Linked DNA regions of Homo sapiens: region 2 is linked to region 1. A link means that fine-mapping ties the variant in region 1 to the expression of a gene that starts in the linked region. Tissue or cell type: whole blood. Region 1 holds a variant in brackets; the other region holds the start of a gene. All regions are shown on one strand. Distances are from middle to middle.

Region 1 (9,932 bases):
TGGCGCCTTCCAATTCCTCCTCCTCTTCTTTTCTCTTTCGTCAGCAGATGGCGTCTTCCTTCTCTTTTTCTTTCTTTCCTCCCTCCTCTCTCCCCACCCTTGGCAAACATTTGTCACCAGGATGGATGCTGTTAGAAAAACGTCTCCCTGTGACATGTTGTCTTTTCAAAAGGACAAGAAGGAAAGGAGGAAACAGGTTTTCATTGCTTAAGGCACATTAAAACTGGCTGGTTCTCTCTAGCACATTTCTTAGACAAACACCCGTTTTCCTTTAGACTCAGAGCTGATATGTTATTGTAACAGTTAAGTTTGCCTTTACATTTTTATTCATGCTGCCTTGCAGGTAGATGGTTCCTTTTGACTTTTTTACGTAGATGGGCACCTTTTGTTAATTTTACCTTTTTAAAATACAAATGTAGGCCAGATGCAGTGGCTCACACCTGTAATCCCAGCACTTTGAGAGACCAAGGTGGGTGGATCACTTGAGGCCAGGAGTTCGAGACCAGCCTGACCAACATGGTGAAACCCCGTCTCTACTAAAAATACAGAAATTAGCTGGGCGTGGTGGTGCATGCTTGTAATCCCAGCTACTCGGAAGGCTGAGGCAGGACAATTGCATGAACCCAGGAGGGAGAGGTTACAGTGAGCCGAGATCATGCCACTGCACTCCAGCCTGGGTGACACAGCAAGACTTGTCTCAAAAAAAAAAAAAAAAAGTATTTTCTAGAGAAAAATCTTTTGATGTACAGATAAATAGATTAAAATGGATTTGTACTTAGTTTTGGGAGTAAAACTGGTAAGACAGTGATTTGGCCTAATCACTTTGAATGCAGACATCGCTGGACACATGAAGATTTAAAATTGGGCAGAGAAAAAACTGGGCAATTTTTTTTTCACCTAGATTCTTCCAGTATTATGGGCAGAGAATACATACAACTTAGTGAAAGATTGTTAGTGACTAGAAGGATTTAATTCACATATATTGTAAAACCAGACTGCATGTGGAACAAACTGTGTGTTTGAACTAATTAAGTATTCAAAGAAATATTTAATATTTCTTATTCACCCACCTTGCCCCCTTTTCTCCTCCTTTCTCGATCAGTAAATATTTACTGGATGTTTCCAGAATGTGAATGTTGCATAAAAACAAGTATATGAAATTGTCTTTGCTATCAAGGATAATATAACTGAACGTAATATATTAGCCCACTTTGCTGCTTTAGGAAGAATACTAAGGTGAGCCCAGTTTAATCTTTAACATATTGTTACCTCTCATTTCTGCTTGTTCAAATCCAAGCTGCAACTCAGTGCCATCTTCTTCATGATTATCTTTACTCCTACCCCTCTCTACCTCCATTCCCCCAAAAAGTGATCTCATACTCCTGTGAGCATCCTTAGCATTTATGCAGTCTTTTCTTTTTTTTTTTTTTTTATTATTATACTTTAAGGTTTAGGGTACATGTGCACAATGTGCAGGTTAGTTACATATGTACATGTGCCATGCTGGTGCGCTGCACCCACTAACTCATCATCTAGCATTAGGTATATCTCCCAATGCTATCCCTCCCCTCCCCCCACCCCACAACAGTCCCCAGAGTGTGATGTTCCCCTTCCTGTGTCCATATGTTCTCATTGTTCAATTCCCACCCATGAGTGAAAATATGCGGTGTTTGGTTTTTTGTTCTTGCGATAGTTTACTGAGAATGATGATTTCCAATTTCATCCATGTCCCTACAAAGGACATGAACTCATCATTTTTTATGGCTGCATAGTATTCCATGGTGTATATGTGCCACATTTTCTTAATCCAGTCTATCATTGTTGGACATTTGGGTTGGTTCCAAGTCTTTGCTATTGTGAATAGTTATGCACTCTTTTCTTGGACTTTGCTCTTTCTCCTTTGTCGTATAGTTATATTATAGTTGTTGACCTTGGGCTATCTTCATTCCTAACGTTCTCATTCTAGTACCTTGTGTAGAAATGCTGTTCACTAAATGACATATCGAATGGGTATTAAATTTATTATTAAGTGCCTTGGCTCTTAATTGGTCAGGCTTGGATTTCAGTCTCAGCTCTGCCATTTACTATCTCTGTGATTTTGGCCAAGTATTAACCTCTCTAAATTTCAGTTTGCTATTCTGCAAAATGGGAATGATGATAATGACTACTTGAAGGAGACTTTGTGAAGATGGATGATTTTTGCAACAGTGTAGGTAAGAGATAGTGCCTGGGCATAGTAGTGCTTGGTAAATTTGGGTGTGTGTCTACATGCTTTTCCAGGCTATATGCACAGACACACAGACACACATAGTGTATGTGCAGGATGCTAGGCACTAGAAGAAAGATGAAACCACACAAATCCTATGCTCATGTTGCTTAAAGAAGAAATAAAACTGTGTAAGGTAGAGGTGAGGTGTGGTGACTCACACCTGTAATCCCAGCGCTTAGGAAGGCTGAGGTGGGAGGATTGCTTGAGCCCAGGAGTTCAAGACCAGCCTGGGCAATATAGTGAGACCCCATCTCTACAAAAATTTTTTTAAAAAAATAGCCGGTCATGGTGGCACATGCTGGTGGTCCCAGCTACTCGGGAAGTTGAGGTGGGAGGATTGCTTGAGCTCGGGAGTTAAAAGCTGCAGTGAGCCGAGATCACTCCCCTGCACTATGGCCTGGGCAACAGAGCGAGACCCTGTCTTCAAAACAAAGCCAAAAAAACCGTGTAGGGTGGAAAATGATGGCACTGTTGGAGCAGCAAAGATGGAGTGCTGTGGGAGTTCACTTCTTTCTCCCAGAGATTGCGCTAGGCAAGGTATGGTTTATGGGAAGTTTTAATGCAAAAGGTGGCAGTTGTGCAGAAAGCAGAAAAGTGGGTAAAGCTTGAATGAGTGGAGATGGAGGCAAGAGAGACAGAGAAATAGTAAAAATATATATTTTTTATCTTTTCAAAAACTTGTTGTACATTGGAATTTTCCAGTCAAAGGCTGAGATTGGAGATGGATATCCCCACTGGTCTGCAAGTCATTTTATAGACTTGCCAAGTGCCTGTGTGGGTTCTCAGATGGCCTACTGTCTTTGGTCCGAGTGTGGTAGCTGTCAGGTCAGAAATGAGGAAGTGCACCAGGACTCCAGCTTTGGTAGTCTGTAGCACTGTGTTGGGTATATTTCCCACAGATATGGAAAAGGGGAAGATGTAACTTGGTAATCATCTCTAAAGATATGTCATCAAGAAGCTTTTCAGCTTAATTGTTAAATATTCAAATATAGGCCAGGTGTGGTAGTTCATGTGTGTAATTCTAGTACTTTGGGAGGCTGAGGTGGGTGGATCATTTGAGGTTAGGAGTTCAAGACCATCCTGACCAATGTGGTGAAACATCATCTCTACTAAAAATACAAAAATTAGCTGGGCATGGTGGTATGCGCCTGTAATCCCAGCTACTCGGGAGGCTGAGGCAGGAGAATTGCATGAACCTGAGAGGCGGAGGTTGCAGTAAGCCAAGATCACACCACTGCACTCCAGCCTGGGCAACAGAGCGAGACTCTGTCTCAGCAACAACAACAAAAAATTAAATATAATAGAAGCTCTCTCATCAAGTATGAGTAAACCATTGAAAAAAATATGTGCAATGTTTTGTACTCCAGCCTGGGCAACAGAGCGGGACTCTGTCTCAACAACAGCAACAAAAAATTAAAAATAATATAAAGAAGCTCTCTCATATTGTGTATATACAGATTTTTCTAAGTAATTTGAAGTAGATAGGGAATAAGAGGATCAAGTATGAGTAAACCATTGAAAAAATAATGGAATGTTTTGTGCTTGTTGCGCATTGTATCGTCCAAATTCAAGTGTGGACTTTAATCTCCAGTCTACAGTCCGTCCATAAGGTTAATCTCAGTGATTCCAGTTGGCATAAAAATCTACCGCTCACACTAGTAAACTAACAAGTTTGCCCTTCTTCTCCCACCTTCAAATGCCACCCCCAATTCTTACACTGTTTAAATAGGAAATTGGGAAGCATTTATTTTTTTCCCAGGTTCAGCAATCCCATTTTGACTGTAAACTAAAGTTAGAAAGAAGAGTTTAGTGGTATATCCTCTGACAGACTAGATTGCTGGTCCTATCAATTACTAGCTGTATAAGCTTAGGTAGGTCATTTTCCAGAGAATTCTGTTTACTTATCAGTGTTACTAGGCTAGTAAGACCTGTTTCCCTAGAAAACATAGATTCTTAACCTGGCGTTCATAGATGGTCTTCCTTAAAACTACATGTATAAAGCTAAGAATGGTGGTGCACATCTATAGTCCCAGCTACTTGGGAGGCTGAAGTGGGAGTATTGCTTGAGCCCAAGAGTTCAAGATGAGCCTGGACAACATAGCCAGACCCTATCTCTTAAAAAAAACAAAAAATAAAAATAAATTTAAAAAAATATGTAGTTATGTGTTTCTGGGACCATTATCTTTTTTTTTTTTTTTTGGATTCTCAGAGGGAATTCTCCCCTGCTCCCCCCAAATTAAGAATCTCTGCCTTAGAAGTTAGTGTGCATTTGATAAGCCATAATAGATAGAAAATGCTGTACTAATGTAAAATGCAGCATTATTTCAAGTAGATTATAATGACTCCCTCCTTAGACCATTTAATGTTCTCTTAAGTATGAGCTTATCTTTTGTAGGTCATAAACAGAAAGTAGAAAAAAAAATCTACAAAAGAATTTAAAAATCTAAATAAACCTAGACTTATTTGAAGTCTCTTGCATTCTAAGGCAGATACCGTTTCCTAGTTGTTTGGATTGTCTATTACTATATAACACACCACCCTAAAACTTACCACATTCATACAACTATCATTTTATTTGCTCATTAGTCTGTGAGTTGGCTAGGGCTCAGGTGGATGGTTCTTCTGCTGGTCTCTCTGATTATCTAGAGTGGTTACAGTAAGATAGTGACTGGGGCTGAAATATCCAAGACAGTTCACATGTCCAACACCTTAATGGGGATAGTGGAGAGGTTTTGACCTCTCTATCTACATGGCTTGCTTAGTCTTTTTAATAGGGCAGCTGAATATCACTAGATATTCTGAGAGATACTTTTATTGGACGTGTCTCACCTAGTATGCAAGCATTCATGAAGCTTCTGCTTGCATCATGCTTTCTAATGTCCCACTGGTCCAGTCCAGAGTTGGTGTGGGAGGGCACGACCATGGGTGTGATCACCAGTAGGCATGATTCCTTGGGGACACCAAGATAATATGCCACATTACCATATAGGAGTGACTCATTAATATTTTTATTGAATGGGATACTTGTTTTCAATGTAGTATAGTTCACAAGTCTTCACTTTGATAAAGCTACTTTTTTTTTTTTTTTTTTTTTTTAGAGACAGAGTCTTACCCTGTCACCCAGGCTGGAGTACAATGGTGCGATCTCGGCTCACTGCAACCTCTGCCTCCTGGGTTCAAGTGATTCTT[C/T]TGCCTCAGCCTCCTGAGTAGCTGGGACTACAGGTGCGCACCACCACACCTGGCTAATTTTTGTGTTTTTAGTAGAGATGGGGTTACATTATGTTGGCCAGGCTGGTCTCAAACTCCTGACCTCAGGGGATCTGCCCACCACGGCCTCCCAAAGTGCTGGCATTACAGGTGTGAGCCACTGCACGTGGCCGATAAAGCTACTTTTTAAAGTAAATGTGCACTCAAGTACTCCCTTTATTGTTTGTGGTAATATTTATTTATTTAGATAATCCAGTTGTCCTCCTTTGGTGTCCCCAGTTCATACACACCTAAACATAACTTAAAATTTGTTTGGAATTTGAAAGTACAGAATTTTCCTGTAATTGAGACTTTTTAAACTTTTGTGGTTGGAGAAGGTATTCTATTTTTTGAAAATATCTGTAAGTTTTATCTAAGTAGTAAACTCTAAGTATTCTTCCCCTTTACTTACAGCCACCCTGGGAATCTGAGACTAGAGAAAATAAAGTTTGTCTCTTGTTCTAAGGAGGGTCTGGTTTAGAAATCTGATTTAGACATAGAAAAATTGCAAGAAGCTTGAGGTGATTGGAAGATACGATTTTGTTATCAAAGTATGTTTCTGTTTTATAGATTTTATTCATCTACAACTCCTTATTAATATATTTAAGAAGTCATTAACCCACCATTGATTACTTGATATAAAAGGAGAAACGGTGGTAAAAGGTGAAATAGAATTTTTAATTTTTTTTTTTTAAGTTTAGGATTTTTTTTTTAAATTCTAAGAGTTTCTGTCATTTGGGGACAATCAGAAACAAAAAAATAAAAATAAAGCATTGATGGTACTAGTATATATCAAGGAAATTATTGCCTGTGACACAGCTTATGTGGAGTCAGTGTTTTATAGATTGATGAACATCAGCTCATTTTTCCAGGGAGAGTAATAGCCGGTCTCTTCCTTGGAAATATTTAAGGAACATTTAGTTTATAAGAAAGCTCTGATAGATGATTGAAATCACAGAACAGAAGACTGATCACACTTAAACACAGTGCATCTGCATTTACTTAAGGTACTGAAGTGCAGTGCTTCTCAAACTTTACCCTGCATGGAGAACCCTGGGGCATCTTGTTAAAAGATTCTGATTTAGTGGCTCTGGGATGGAGCCCTGAGGCTCTGCATTTCCCAGAAGCTCCTACACAGTGGGAGTGCTGTTCGCTTACCAGCAAGTCTTTAGTATAGGTAACCCTGCTGAAGTCTTTGTCCTAGGCAAGAAGCCCACAAGAATCCCGTCACCCATTGGGATGTTGTGGCCTTTCACTTTTGGCATTCACCTCTAGCAGTACAAGAAGGAATCCTTTTAGGATCTTTTCACACATGCTCAAGTCATTCATCTCAAAACTAGAAAATATATCTTAATTTAAAACCATTTTTGGGGGGATGTGGCATTAAGTTCATTTGTATAAATCTGACATTTGTTAATAGCTGTAATTTGAAAATGAAAAAGTTATTTGGCTTACATCAAATAAATTAGTCCCTCAGCGATTCTTTGTCAAGGCCCCCCCTATCTGGATATAACAGGACTCTTGCTTCTATCAGATTGTCCACTAAAAACCGAGGTATGTGGAGGGCCAGCATTGTTCACCAGCGTAACTGGCTGGTTGCCTGACTTACTGCCAGTACTTCATCTGAACGAGGACACCTAGAAGTATGACCGTCCTTCTTTCACTCAGGTGGATTCATTTCTTTAGAAATTTGTTTCTTGTATCTGGTTTAAACATATCTCTGGAGGTATTGAAGACTGACCCGCTGTCAAAAAACAAAATGCCATAAAATTAGCTTAAAGATCTAATTGGCTTTTATTTGCTGTTCTAAAGTACAGCAACACCTCATTCTATAAAATACAGTGGGTGTTACGATGAGCCGAGCAGAGGAGGTTGGTTTTATAGGCAGAAAAGGGCTGAAGAAAACAGTGAACAAAAAGTTATTCATCATTTCGAAGTTGTTTTCCTTACAAAGGTTAAAGCAGAGGGGACTTCCTTATCATGCCAGCTAAAACTGGCCTTTTTGGAGATTTGGCTCTTATCTCTCTCTCTCTCCTGATTTCTTGGAACAACTTAGTTTTGACTTGGTGGCTTGGGATTTCAGCCTGAGCGACTCCATTTTGGTTTGGTCTCTGGGGCCTAGTGCAGGAGCTCAGTCCAAACCACTGGACTACTATAAATTTTATTTACCACTGCATTTTAAAAAATACAGAATCTTCACTGTAGAGTCTTTTCTCCTAACTTTAATAGAGGGAAGCCATTGTAAATACAACCCCTTGGTTTAGAGCCCATCCAAATAGTCCTTCCAAAAACCAAAAACTTTTTAGTTAGAAAATATTTTTAATTGAAAAACTGCATACTGAGAAGACACTACTGGTGATCTATAGTTGGTGGAACTCATGCTTGAACAAGTTTGCTCACACAGAGGCAGCATGGGCAACAGGAGTGAGGGCTTTGGAGTCAGACAGACTTGGCTTTGAATCCTTGCTCTGCTGTTACTAGCTGCGTGACCTTAGGCTAAACCTGATTTAAATCATTTTTCTGAATCAAATAGAATCTGATGAGGGTTCCCGCTTTTCAGAGTGTGTGGGAAACCCACTCTCGTTGTTGGGATCCCTCCCTCCACCAGAGGGGAAGAGGGACTCCTGACCCCGCTCCATTTGTGGTTGCTCTGTTCATGTCCCTGGCCCAGTCCCCTGGCGTCCTCTCAGAAGGGAACCTCTGTTAGTGCTTTGCAGGGGGTTTCTGCAGAGTGCCCCCAAGCCTGTGTTCACTGAGGTCTCCACTCTGACAACACTTTCATCTGGAATCCTGCCTCCTGCAGGTGTGTGAGTGGGTCAGGGCTTTTCTCTTCATGGGACCCTAATCCCTTCCCCTCCCAGTTTTGGGGAAACCAACCCCAGGGATTGAGTCACTTCCAGCTGTGTTCCCACAGGCCCACAACCTTCACACTTGCAGCTCTGGGCTCCAGCACCTAATTCCTTCAGTCTCTGCCTTCAAAACACAAAGGTCTCAGGTTAGACATACCTCATACATGGGGAATGTTCCTCTTTTTTTCTAAAACCACAACAAAAATCTGTTTATAACTACAACCAACATTTATTGTGTGCTTACTACTTGGAGTCAGGCACTATTGTAGAAGACAGTTAAGTGTCTTCAATTCAATTTACTTAACAATCCTTATGGGTATAAACAGGAATAATATATTCACACATACTGTATTATTCCTGTTTATAAGGAAATTGGGGCTCATAAGATTGGATCAGGAGCCTACAGCTAGGGAGTGGAAGAATCTGAATTTGAACTTAGATCTCTTTATTTAGTAAACCATGGAAACCTGGCTACTGAGTTCTCACTTTGCCAACAACCTGTTTCATCTTGCGTATATTTCTTGTTTCTTAAATATATTTCCCTTATCTGAAAAAAATCAGCATAGAGTAGTTGCATTTCAGAGTATCTTTGTGTCTGAAAAATCCGTGATTCTGCTCAACTGCTGTTTTACTTCCATATTTTTAAGCAAGGAAACTGTTTTTAAACTGTAAAGAGTTCAGAACTGCAGAGGCCTCTGGGAAGTGTAGCTTAGTGTGGGAGGAGATATTCAGTGACTACTGTTAAAAATTAGTGGTTCTGCAGTGAGAACACATGGACACAGGGGAGGGGAATAACATACTCTGGGGGTGGGGGAGAGAGCATCAGGAAAAAGATCTAATGCTTGTGGGGCTCAATATCTAGGTGATGGGTTGATAGGTGTAGCAAATCACCATGGCACACGTTTACCTGTGTAACCAACCTGCATGTCCTGCACGTGTATCCCAGAACTTTAAATTAAATTTAAAAAATATTAATGGTTCTCAGCTGGGCGCGGTGGCTCACACCTGTAATCCCAGCACTTTGGGAGGCCGAGGCCGGCAGATCATGAGGTCGTCAAGAGATCGAGACCATCCTGGTCAACATGGTGAAACCCCATCTCTACTAAAAATACAAAAATTAGCCAGGCGTGGCGGTGCACACCTGTAGTCCCAGCTACTTGGGAGGCTGAGGCAGGAGAATCACTTGAACCCGGGAGGCAGAGGTTGCAGTGAGCCAAGATCGCACCACTGCTCTCCAGCCTGGCAACAGAGCGAGACTCCATCTCAAATATATATATATAATTTTTCTCAAACTCTCGGGTGTGCTGAAGGAGCATGCAAATATTGAAAAACCCTGATGCTGACTTTGAGAAATCATGCAGAATAGGGGCCGAATGCAAGAAAAATCATCTTTGTCCAAATTTTAAATAAAGTGAGATTCTAGAAGCCACACTGATGCTCTGGCTATTGATTGTCAGTGAAATTTTAAGACAGAGTTAAATAAACTCTGTGAATATGGTATTAGATTAGTGGTTTCTTTTCTTTCTTTCTTTCTTTCTTTCTTTCTTTCTTTTTTTTTTTTTTGCCTA
Region 2 (9,932 bases), 110 kb before region 1:
GGTTTGTATTAGGGTGGTAGCAGTGGAGACCGAAAGAGACATTTTGGAAATGTTTTGGAGGTAAAGTTGACCTGAATTCTGAGGATTGTGAAAACGGAGGAAAAGAGAAGAATCAAGAATATCTACATGCTTTTTGTGTTGAGCAATTGGTGGGTGGTAATGCCATTTAATTTGAAGCCTGAGAGAATGAAGAATTCTATTAGTGTAGTATTTCCTTCTTTCCTTGTGCAGCCTTAAGCTTGCAGACCATGGATTACACCACTCTCTTTTATTTTCCTTCCCTACTTGCCCTTTAGTCCTTCTTATATAAAAGAACTTCATCTATCTGCATCCTCTACTCTTATCCTGTCTTGAACTCACTGCAGTTTGGCTACTATCCCCATTTTACTAATAAACTCCTTCTTGCCGAACACAACAATGACCTCCTTACTAAATCCAAAAACTTCAGTCCTCTTTTTCTTTGCTTTGCTTTTTTTTTTTTTCTTGAGACAGAGTCTTGCTCTGTTGCCCAGGCTGGAGTGCAGTTGTGCAATTTCAGCTCATCACAACCTCTGCCTCCTGGGTTCAAGAGATTCTTGTGTCTCAGCTCCTGAGTAGCTGGGACTACAGGTGTGTGCCACTACACCCGGCTAATTTTAGTAGAGATGGGGTTTTGCCATATTGGCCAGGCTGGTCTCGAACTCCTAACCTCAGGTGATTCGCTCACCTCGGCCTTCCAAAGTGCTGGGATTACAGGTGTGAGCCACTGCAGCTGGCCACAATCCTCTTTTTCTTGACTTCTAGCTGGCATTTAATACTGCTGATGTTTCCTCCCCTGGCTCCTTTGAAACTACTTGTTCCTGGTCCTCCTACCTCTTGGGATATTTTTCCCCTGTATTTTTTCTTTCCTCACTTTTTAAATATCAGGGTTTTCATAGGGTTCCAAAGTAGATCCTCTTCTTTCCTTTCTCTATGCCTTCTCTTGGGGATTTCATCTACTTCCATGAACTATTCCTTATTCTGATGACTCCAGCATAGATCTCTCTCCTGAGTTCTAGACTTCCCTGTTCAATTATGTAGTAGACAGCTTCACTTTGATATTCTATGGACACTTCAACTCAACATGTTGAAAACTAAACTAATTACCTTCACTCCACAACCTGCTTTTCCTCCTGAGGTCCCTATCTTGGACCTCAGGATATATCTGCAGGATATAATGGGAGCAGATTTATGGCTTATGAAAATGGAAGGATAGCATTGATGGAGGATACCATCAATAATCAAATTCTGTTGGTTCTATGTCCTTAATATATCTTAAACCCTTTCAATGCTTCCTCTCTCCATGTCCATTCTTGCTACCTTAGTTTAGACATGCATCATTATTTCTTTCTTATAATGTGATATGGTTTGGCTCTGTGTCCCATCTCAAACTGTTAGCCCCACGTGCTGAGGGAGGGACCTGGTGGGAGGTGACTGGATCATGGGGGCAGTTCCCTCCATGCTGTTCTCACGATAGTGAGGGAGTTCTCATGAGATCTGACGGTTTTAAAAGTGTCAGTTTCCCCCGCAAGCTCTCTCTCTCCTGCTGCCTTGTGAAGGTGGCTGCTTCCCCTTCGCCTTCCACCATGATTGTAGGTTTCCCCAGGCCGGAGCACAGTGGCATGATCTCTGCTCATTGCAACCTCCGCTTCTGTGGTTCAAGTGATCCTCCTGAGGAGCTGGGACTACAGGTGTGTGCCACCAGGCCTGGCTAATTTTTTTTTTTTTTTTTTTTGTATTTTTGTAGAGACAGGGGTTTCACCATGTTGCCCAGGCTGGTCTCAAACTCTTGAGCTCAAGCAATCTGCCCACCTCAACCTCCCAAACTGCTGGGATTACAGTAGTGTGCCACTGCACCCAGCTGAGAGATCTTTCTAAAATGAACATTTGATCAGTTCACTATGCCCCTTAAAATTCATCAGTGGTTCTCCACTGGCCTTAGAATAAGTTCAAACTTTTTAGGATAACATACTCAACCATGCTAATCTTTCTGGATTTCTCCTCCAGGACTTCTGCCATGCATTTATACAATGTATTTATTTAGAACCTACTTGCCAGGCTCTGTTCTTCACCCTCAACTCCCTGCACACAGCTTTTTCCCTAAGGTCTTTACACATAGTACTTTCTTTGCTTGGAATATCTTTCCCTGTAACCTGCCCACTTGTCTGGCTTACTTCTACTTATCCTTCAGAACGCATCTCAAGATTCACCTTGTGTGGTTAGAGACCCTATGCGTGGTCAGGGTTAGGCACCATTCTTATGAGCTCCCCTGTTGATATCATCTCACTGTTGCGTGATCAACTGTATATTCATCTTTGTTCTCATGATACTATAATGTCCTTCAGAGCAGAAACTGTGTCTTATTCATCTTTGTATTCCCAGCACCCAGCACAGTACCTGACACACAGCAAGCACTCAATAATGAATAAAGTGGCAGAGTTGGGTTTCAAAGTCAGGTCTTTTCTCTCTGGCACAAATCTCACATTTCTTCATGCTACTTCTCAATACTGTGAATTTGAAAAATTCCAAGAGCTGAGCTAGGTCTATTTTTGCCTAGCACTAATTAAAACACAGGCAAATAGATTATTATTAGTTCCATGAGGATTCAGTTGATTATTTTTTTGTACACCCCTTCCTCCATCATTCCACCACTTTGATCATCAGAGTACTTAGGATTACCTATATCTAAAATGACTGAAAGGCTAGGCATGGTTGAGTGCACCTGTAGCCCCAGCTACTCAGGAAGCTGAGGTGGGAGGCTTGCTTGAGCCCAGGAGTTGGAGGCCAGCCTGGGTAACACAGTGACACGTTGTCATAATAAATAAGTGAGTAGACTGAAAGAACTTTCTCTATACTTTTATATCCTTTTGTAACTCTTATCCTGTTGCTTCCATAATACCACTGAGGCAGGGAGAGACTAAGTACATGGGGAGCAAGGTAAATTTTATTTTTCTGTCAACAGACACTAAAAATGGATACATCAATAGAAAGTCATTTCCCATCATTTCCCTCAAGGTTCCTATGGATAGATATTAAAGGTTCAGTGCTTAAATTTAACATTGCAAAATCCAGCTAAAATTGAAATTTTTATGTAGTGAGTTCAATCTCATCACAGAAGTTTGTAAATGGGAGGAACCTTAGAAATCCTTTAGTCCAGCACTTTCATTTAAGCTTCCACGAAGAAACTGACATAAGACCTACAATGGCTCACTCAAGGTCATCCAGGCTATCGATGCCATTATACATCTTTTTCAAAGGGCTTCATTTTCCATCTAAACAAATTATCTACATCAGAATCCACCTATTTACATAGGGCTTATCTTTCTGATATTGCCTTTGCAATATCCTTGTTATAAAGAGGAAGGAACTGAAAACAAACAAAACAAAACAAGGTTGTCTTGTCCAGGGACATAGAGGAATTGGTAAAAAAGACAATTAGTACACAAAGTGATGGGGTTTCCTATTTGTAGTGTAGCCTTGTAGTCACACTGTGTTCTCCGAATGCCACAATGCTAACCCAAAATTACTTGTCCTTCCTGGGCCTGGATTCCATTCAATTTTATGCCTTGTTTAGTCTAAATGATTTCCCCAGCTTCGACATGTATTTATTTATTTATTTATTTATTTATTTATGCGTTTCATTTTAGAAGTATACTTAAATCTACTCTTTACTCGAGTTTGTCTTAGTTCTAGTGCTGAGGAATGAAGATTCTGGGTAAAAGAAATCAAGATGATGTTTTTTTTTTCTAGGCTTTACATTTCAAGGATTGTTTCTCAAATGGCAACTGGCAGTCTACTCCTCAAATGATGACGTTTTCCACAGGAATTACAATTTAATTGGAATATTTTGTTTTCAATGGGAAGCAAAGATTTCTTTCCAAGAGGATCAGTTTGATAATGTTTTACCAGCTAGTGCTACGAGACCAAATATAAACCAGTTCTGAGAAACAGGAAGTGAACTGACTGGTCTAGTCTGAGTGTCCCTGGCAGTGACGCAAATACAGAAATCAAATTAGGAAAACAAGATATGTGGGTGTGAGGCAATCGATAATAATCCAGGATGCTACAACATAAGCAAGAATGCCTTTAACCCGATGCCATTCATTTTAATAACACCCTGAGCAGTTTGATTTCCACGGAACACGCTGGTGATTAGAGAGCAGCAGGAGCTTGGGTTCCCTAGCAACAGCATGTGCTTTTGAGACAGTCATTAGCCTTTCAGTTAATCCCATCAACCCCTTACCTCTAAATGTATGACTGACATAAAAAAAATGATGTTTTAGAAAGTGCTTTGAAATTTCCAGGAGTGCAATGGAAGGGAATAATCATAATTAAAAAGTTGTCTGGAGAACTACACTCCAGTGAAGGAAGTAATGTTCCTACGTGCCAAGCCTGTCCGTATATTTCCCTGCTCTCAGTTGTAGGTTTCTGAATCCCCTGTGGCAAAGGGCAAGGGAGGTGAAATTGTTCAGAGTTTCAGGCAGTCTTCTCACCTAAAGTGAGTAGTATTGCAATGTCTCTTGGAATCATGGCTCTGAAGATGAGGAGAGAAGCGGGATGGGCAGTTTGTGTGGTGAGGAGGCTGGCTGCAGGTAGGCTGGGAGGGAATGTCACACATAGTTTTCTTTCTCCTTTAAGCCGAATGAGGTATGCTGGTCAAAGGAACTTGGGGAAGGAGGATGGTGAGGGGAATGAAGTTCTTCTTCCTATTGATTGTTTTGTTGCACCAGAGGCTGTTTGTCCAAGGCCACTGGCCAAGAGCATTATTTTCGTGGCTAAAGTGAGGTTGGGCAGGTTTCCCATCCCTTTCACTAGTTTTGAACAAGACAACCCAGAAAGCGCAGCAAGGCTCTGGGAATATGATGTGGGTTGGCTTTTCCTACTCAGCTGCACCTTAAAGCGCCAGGCCGATGGGCTGATACTTCTCAAACCCTGAATCATTGCCTCCAGCTCTGTCCTGGGTTCAGGATGCACCACTCCACCCTCTGTGTAGCTTGGGGTCAACTTCGGGGCGTCACTCCAATAGTAATTATTGCTGCGTTTGGCTGGACATCCTTATTACGGCCTGGGTCCCTCTCAGCTGGAAACTGGGCTCCTTCAGTTTGGCTGGGGTGACTTCTAGCACTTCCCGCCGCCCCACCTTACCCCCCTGCGCGCTCCCTTCCCAAGGCGACCACCTGCACCGCCCCACTTACCATCTGCCCCGCGGGGAGGGCCCCCCGGGCTAGCGGAGCCCTCCCTGCTCCCGGGCGGCTCTGGAGGAGCTCGGTGTTTGCCTCTAGCCCTTCGCTACCGGAGGATCAGGTTCCTCCCCTCCTCCCCCTCCAGCTCCGGCCGCCGCCGCCGCCGCCGCCGCCTCCTTCTTGCATGACACAGCAGAACCGCAGCTGCTGCAGCAATTTCAAGCCATCCGCCCAGGAAGCGCCGCAACCGGGACTCGGGAGGGGTGGAGGGGGCGAGGCAGAGGCCGCGGCCCCAGGGGATCCTTGGCCCCACTGTGCACCACACACTCCTTTCCCAGCCCAGGGGCACGCGAACAAAATGAGGCTCAAGCTGACCAGGCCGAGCCGGAGGAACGCTGGGGCTTGGCAGCAGAAGGGATGGGACCAGAGAGAAGGGTGTGGAGGAGACCCCAGTGAGGGCCAGGACATTTCAGGTAAAGAGAGGTAAGAAGAGGCCCAGAAGTCAAGGGCCAGACTGTGAAGGTGATTAGAGGTCAAAAGAGGTAAGGAGGTAGAGTTGCAAAGAAGAGAGGCCGAGCTGGGAAGGGCGTGGGGGTGGGGGTAGCTGCAGGGGAGGGTGGGGGGTACAGTCTTTGGGGAGGCCCGAGCTGAGCCCCCAGGCAGAAAAGGGGCTGAGTTGGGAGGCAAGGGAGGTAGGAGGAAAGGGATGAAAAGAATTAGGCATGAGATAGGAAGGTAAAACTTGGGAGAGATATTATAGAATTAGAAGGGTTGGAATGGAGCTCATTCATCATGGCTGATGAAGTAAACTGATGAGGTGGAGAGAGACAGAGTCAAGGCAAGGCCAAACGAAAAGATCTTCCATCCCACTCTTCAGTTTCTTGCGAAGTTTTTCTTGATTCCGCCAATCCACACAGTTTCCTTTATAAAATGGAAAAGCATGAACTAAAAAACCCAGAAATAGCTATCTGGCTTAGATTTACAGGATAAAATCTCCATGTCTGTAAAAACTTTAAGGCAGAAATTTGGGATTTATGGTACAAACCCTTTAAGGGACTGTGAGTCAGTAATACCCACAGCACTCAACATTGTGAGTTTCCACACATCCCTGGACTTGAGTGAGTCTTTCCAAGTGTTTGTTAATGGTACAAATGATGACAAAATTAGTGGTTCAAAAATATTAAAGTGCACATGCTTTTTGCTTTCTCTATGTATACAGAGATTACATATATGTATACTTTCTAGCGTCTAGCAAGTATGGTATGGCTAGGGATAATTATGTTTTTCTGATTATTTTGTTTCCCATCAAACACCCCACGAATTTTACAGCAGACCGCCTTCTTGTCACCATTTGAAAGAATGTGGTCAGAAAAGTAATGCAAAAACTGCCACTTTGGTTTTGTCTGTACCTTCCAGGTCATATCTCCGTACCTCACTTCCTGACACAAACAAGTTTTCACTGTTGTCAGCAACAAAGCCCTAATATAGCTGCGGAAGAGAAAAACTGCATTGCATTTTGCCTCCTGCAAGCATCATCAACAGTTACTGGAGGAACGTAATTCCAGAAAGCTTGAAAGCCGTGGTGATGGTAATTATGTATCAAATGCCTGGTTCTATTTCTGTTATTATTGTTTTGTCATTTCTGTTTTCCCAGCGATCTGACTGAACTCGCAGAGGGACAAATCCAGTTTTTCTTTTTGACTTTTGTCAAACTAAATCAGGCCTGATAGAAAACTCATTGCTCTCCGGGGAAACAAAGTAGGAGCCACGAAATGTCATTTTAACAGAGCGTGGGTTTGGTGACTGTAGGAAAGGATTTGAGGACGCTCCTTCTGTTCGGCTTCCTATGTCATGAGCACAGGCTCCACGCACGCACAGACACCACGGCTCCCGGATGCTGTGGCTCCCCGATCGGGGCTCCTGCAGCGCCAGAAGCCCCTCCGGGATGCTTCGAGGGGCTCCCGGTGGGTGGAGGTACGGACGCCGCTGCGGCCGCCGCCGCCAGTCCTGCTGCTGTTGTTGCTGCTGCAGTCACGTGGGAGCCCCTTTAAGTTTCCATAGAGAGGCCTCTCTGGTGTCACATGATGGACATGATATAATGAAACAACATTGTGGAGAGGAAAGCATTAGGGGAGCCCACGGCTACAAAAACAAGTGAGTGAGAAGAGGTGGGAGGAAGAGAAACTACGCCACCTCCCCTGCAGCCGAGTGCACGCAGCAGCCTGGCGTGACAAGTGGGCGACGCCGGGGGGCAGGGAGCCGGGGTCCTTGGCCCTGGCCGGGGACCCCACCGCCCACCGCGCGGAGGACAACTTTTAGCCGGCAGCCCAGACCAGCGCGGCACCTGTCTCCGGAGTCTCCACCGCTCCTCCCGATTCATCCCAGGGAAATTCTCAAGAATACGCTCTACAAATCTACGTGCGCATCATTTTCACCTCGCGTCGCGCCCGGGAGGAAGGAACGAGGCAAGGAGCTAAAGCAGCGTGCGTTCAGCCCTGGGGTAAGTTCGTCGGGTGGGGAAGCCGGTCCCGCAGGACTTTGGGATGGGAATTTTGCTCTCCTTTGCGATCTCAGGGCGTGAAGAAGGCGTCCCCTCCGCTGCCGGCGGAGCTGATCGGCTGGCTAGTCAATTTCCCCTTAGCACGCCCCGTGCGCCCACCCTCGCTCAGCCCGGGGCCCCCTCGCCGTCCCCCGGAAGGGGTCTGCGGTTCCTGGCCAGGACGTTCGGAAGGCGAGCGGGGGAAGGTAGGGCTGTCGCGGGAACCCGGCTTGTGAGAGCGATTTCGCCATGTTTGTGTTGCTAAGAGCACTTTTTCCCCTTTGCTGTGGCTTGATGCCACATGGCTCCTCCGGAGCTGCTGCCGGGCTGAGAGAGTGTTTTTTTTTTTTTTTCAATGTCCGCATTCCAGCTAATGTTGCGCAGATAAAATTCAAACTTGAGGTAAACAGAAGAAGAGGAGGAGGAGGAGGAGGAGGGGAGGGGGGAGGAAGGGGGGACTGTTTCCATTTCGAGATCCCACCTCTTCCCTCCGCGCAGCCCAACATCCCGAACCTAGAGACAACTCTTGCCTTTCTCCCACGTCCCCCACCTTTGCTGTCAACAAGAAATAAAGGCGGGGCGGGGGGGGGGGTTGGAGGTAGGGGGTGGCGTGCTTATTAATTAGAAAGGACGCGGTGTCTCGGTTCTCCACTGGAATCAGCAACTCCCTGGAACTCGGGCCTCTGGCCCCGTCCCTCTTTTCTCCGGCAGGGACGCAGGATGCCTTGGTGCACTCTAGAGACGGGGACCGGAGGGTGCAGCGCGCCTGGGTGGGGCGAAGGGCGCCGGTCTCCTCACGCCCTCTGACTTTAGGATACCAGACAGTGTCTCTTCAACCCCACCCCAGGCGCAGGTTTCCAGAAGGCGGGGTGGGTGGGGCCCCCGATTTCCAGAAGGCGAGTTACCTAGCAGGTGTGTGGGGTGGGCATTGCTATTCGGTAAGTCTGTTGCATGGGGTAGGATGACGTGGGGAGCTTAAAAGCTTTAAAGCCAGCGCAAAGGTAGAGCTGCGTCTGCTGTTTTTGTTTTTTTTTTTTTTTCCCTGTGTCTGTGGCAAATTAAGGAGAAAAATCAAGACGTTCCCTTCAGTCCTCCCTCGGTGTTAACGTCTGCTCCAGCTCGCAGCCCGCTGCTGGGTGAGTGGCGACATCAGGGCGAGGGTGAGCTTCGTCACGGGGAAAGCTGGAGGCTCCTGACAGCTCGTAGCCGTCCTCCCCTCGCCCCGCCCTAGGCGGAAGGTGTGGGTTGGGTGGTCCGAGGAGGGTGACGTCCAAGGTGGGGTGGGCACAGGCTCGGGATCCCTCGCAGCGCTAGGGGCCGCAGCCCCGGTCGCCGGGGAGTGCCATGGCAGGGAGGCGGCAGCCACGTGAGGGGTCTGCGGAAGCGCCGGAGCTGAAAGCTGGGGGCGAAGTGCGTAGCAGAGTCGTGACGGGGGTGACACGCAGCAGCCGGGGGCGGCGGGCCGCCGGAGCCGGGCGCCTCCCACGCAGGGCCGGCGTTCCCCGCCGCGGGTGGGTGCGCACTCGCCGGCCCTCTCCCGGGAGACCGTTTCCGGGAGCGGGCGCTGGCGGGGCGGGGCCGTGGCGGTAAACAGGGTGGTGCCCTCTGCCCTCCCGCCCCCGGCCTGCCGGGGCGCGCGGCCGGCGGTGCCCGGGGCGGTGGAGGCGCGGTCGCGGCGCCGGGCAGCGGGGGCGCGCCCGCTCTCTGCCGCCCCCGCGCGCGCCCGCCGCCGCCCGGCCGGCCTCCTCTGTTTTTGTTTTGATGGAGCCCGCGTGCAGCTGGCGCGTGTCGAGTCACGTGCCGTGGGCGGGAGGGGGCCGGGGCGCGGGAGGCGAGGGCGCGGTGACACGGGCCGGAGGGGCCTGCGCCCGCGGAGGGCGCGCGAGGGGGCGTGTGGCCCCCGATGGAGCCCTGCCGCGCGGGTGCCCCGGCGCTGGCTGAGGGGCTTGGCGCTTCTCGGCGAGCAGTGCTAGGTTTGTCGTCGCAGCGCTTCGGGGAGCCTAGTCCAGGAGAGAGGACCTGCCTGCGCTGCTCGGCTCAGAACTCGGACCTTACAGGTGGTGTGTACATCCCGGTGGACGGGTAGACACTTCTGTGTGCTCCTGAAGGCCGGCTGCGTGTAATAACCAACTGGAGTGCTTTAAGAAGGATTCTAACGCCAGCCCAATCCCAGACCAATTGGACCCACATCC

Evidence for each region. PIP is the estimated chance that this variant, and not a neighbour inherited with it, causes the effect.
Region 2: LINC-PINT starts here. The variant in region 1 is fine-mapped to the expression of LINC-PINT in whole blood (TOPMed, PIP above 0.99). The same link has a PIP of 0.9 or more in lung.

What each region holds. Positions count from the first base shown.
Region 1 is chr7:130,997,756-131,007,687 of GRCh38, reverse strand. The region is part of intron 3 of LINC-PINT (long intergenic non-protein coding RNA, p53 induced transcript); the gene reads left to right. Among named protein-coding and RNA genes, the nearest start is that of LINC00513, 89 kb to the right of the region's middle. RefSeq lists an enhancer at 1-64. The variant C/T (reference allele first, on the strand shown) is at 5,459.
Region 2 is chr7:131,105,489-131,115,420 of GRCh38, reverse strand. It overlaps LINC-PINT (long intergenic non-protein coding RNA, p53 induced transcript), which reads left to right and starts at 5,496. Exons shown (of 8, transcript NR_170176.1): 1 at 5,496-5,684; 2 at 6,618-7,701. It also overlaps a transcript of MKLN1 not described here. RefSeq lists silencers at 3,931-3,990, 5,141-5,290, 5,371-5,420, 7,478-7,537, 7,558-7,607 and 2 more and enhancers at 3,708-4,249, 6,644-7,495.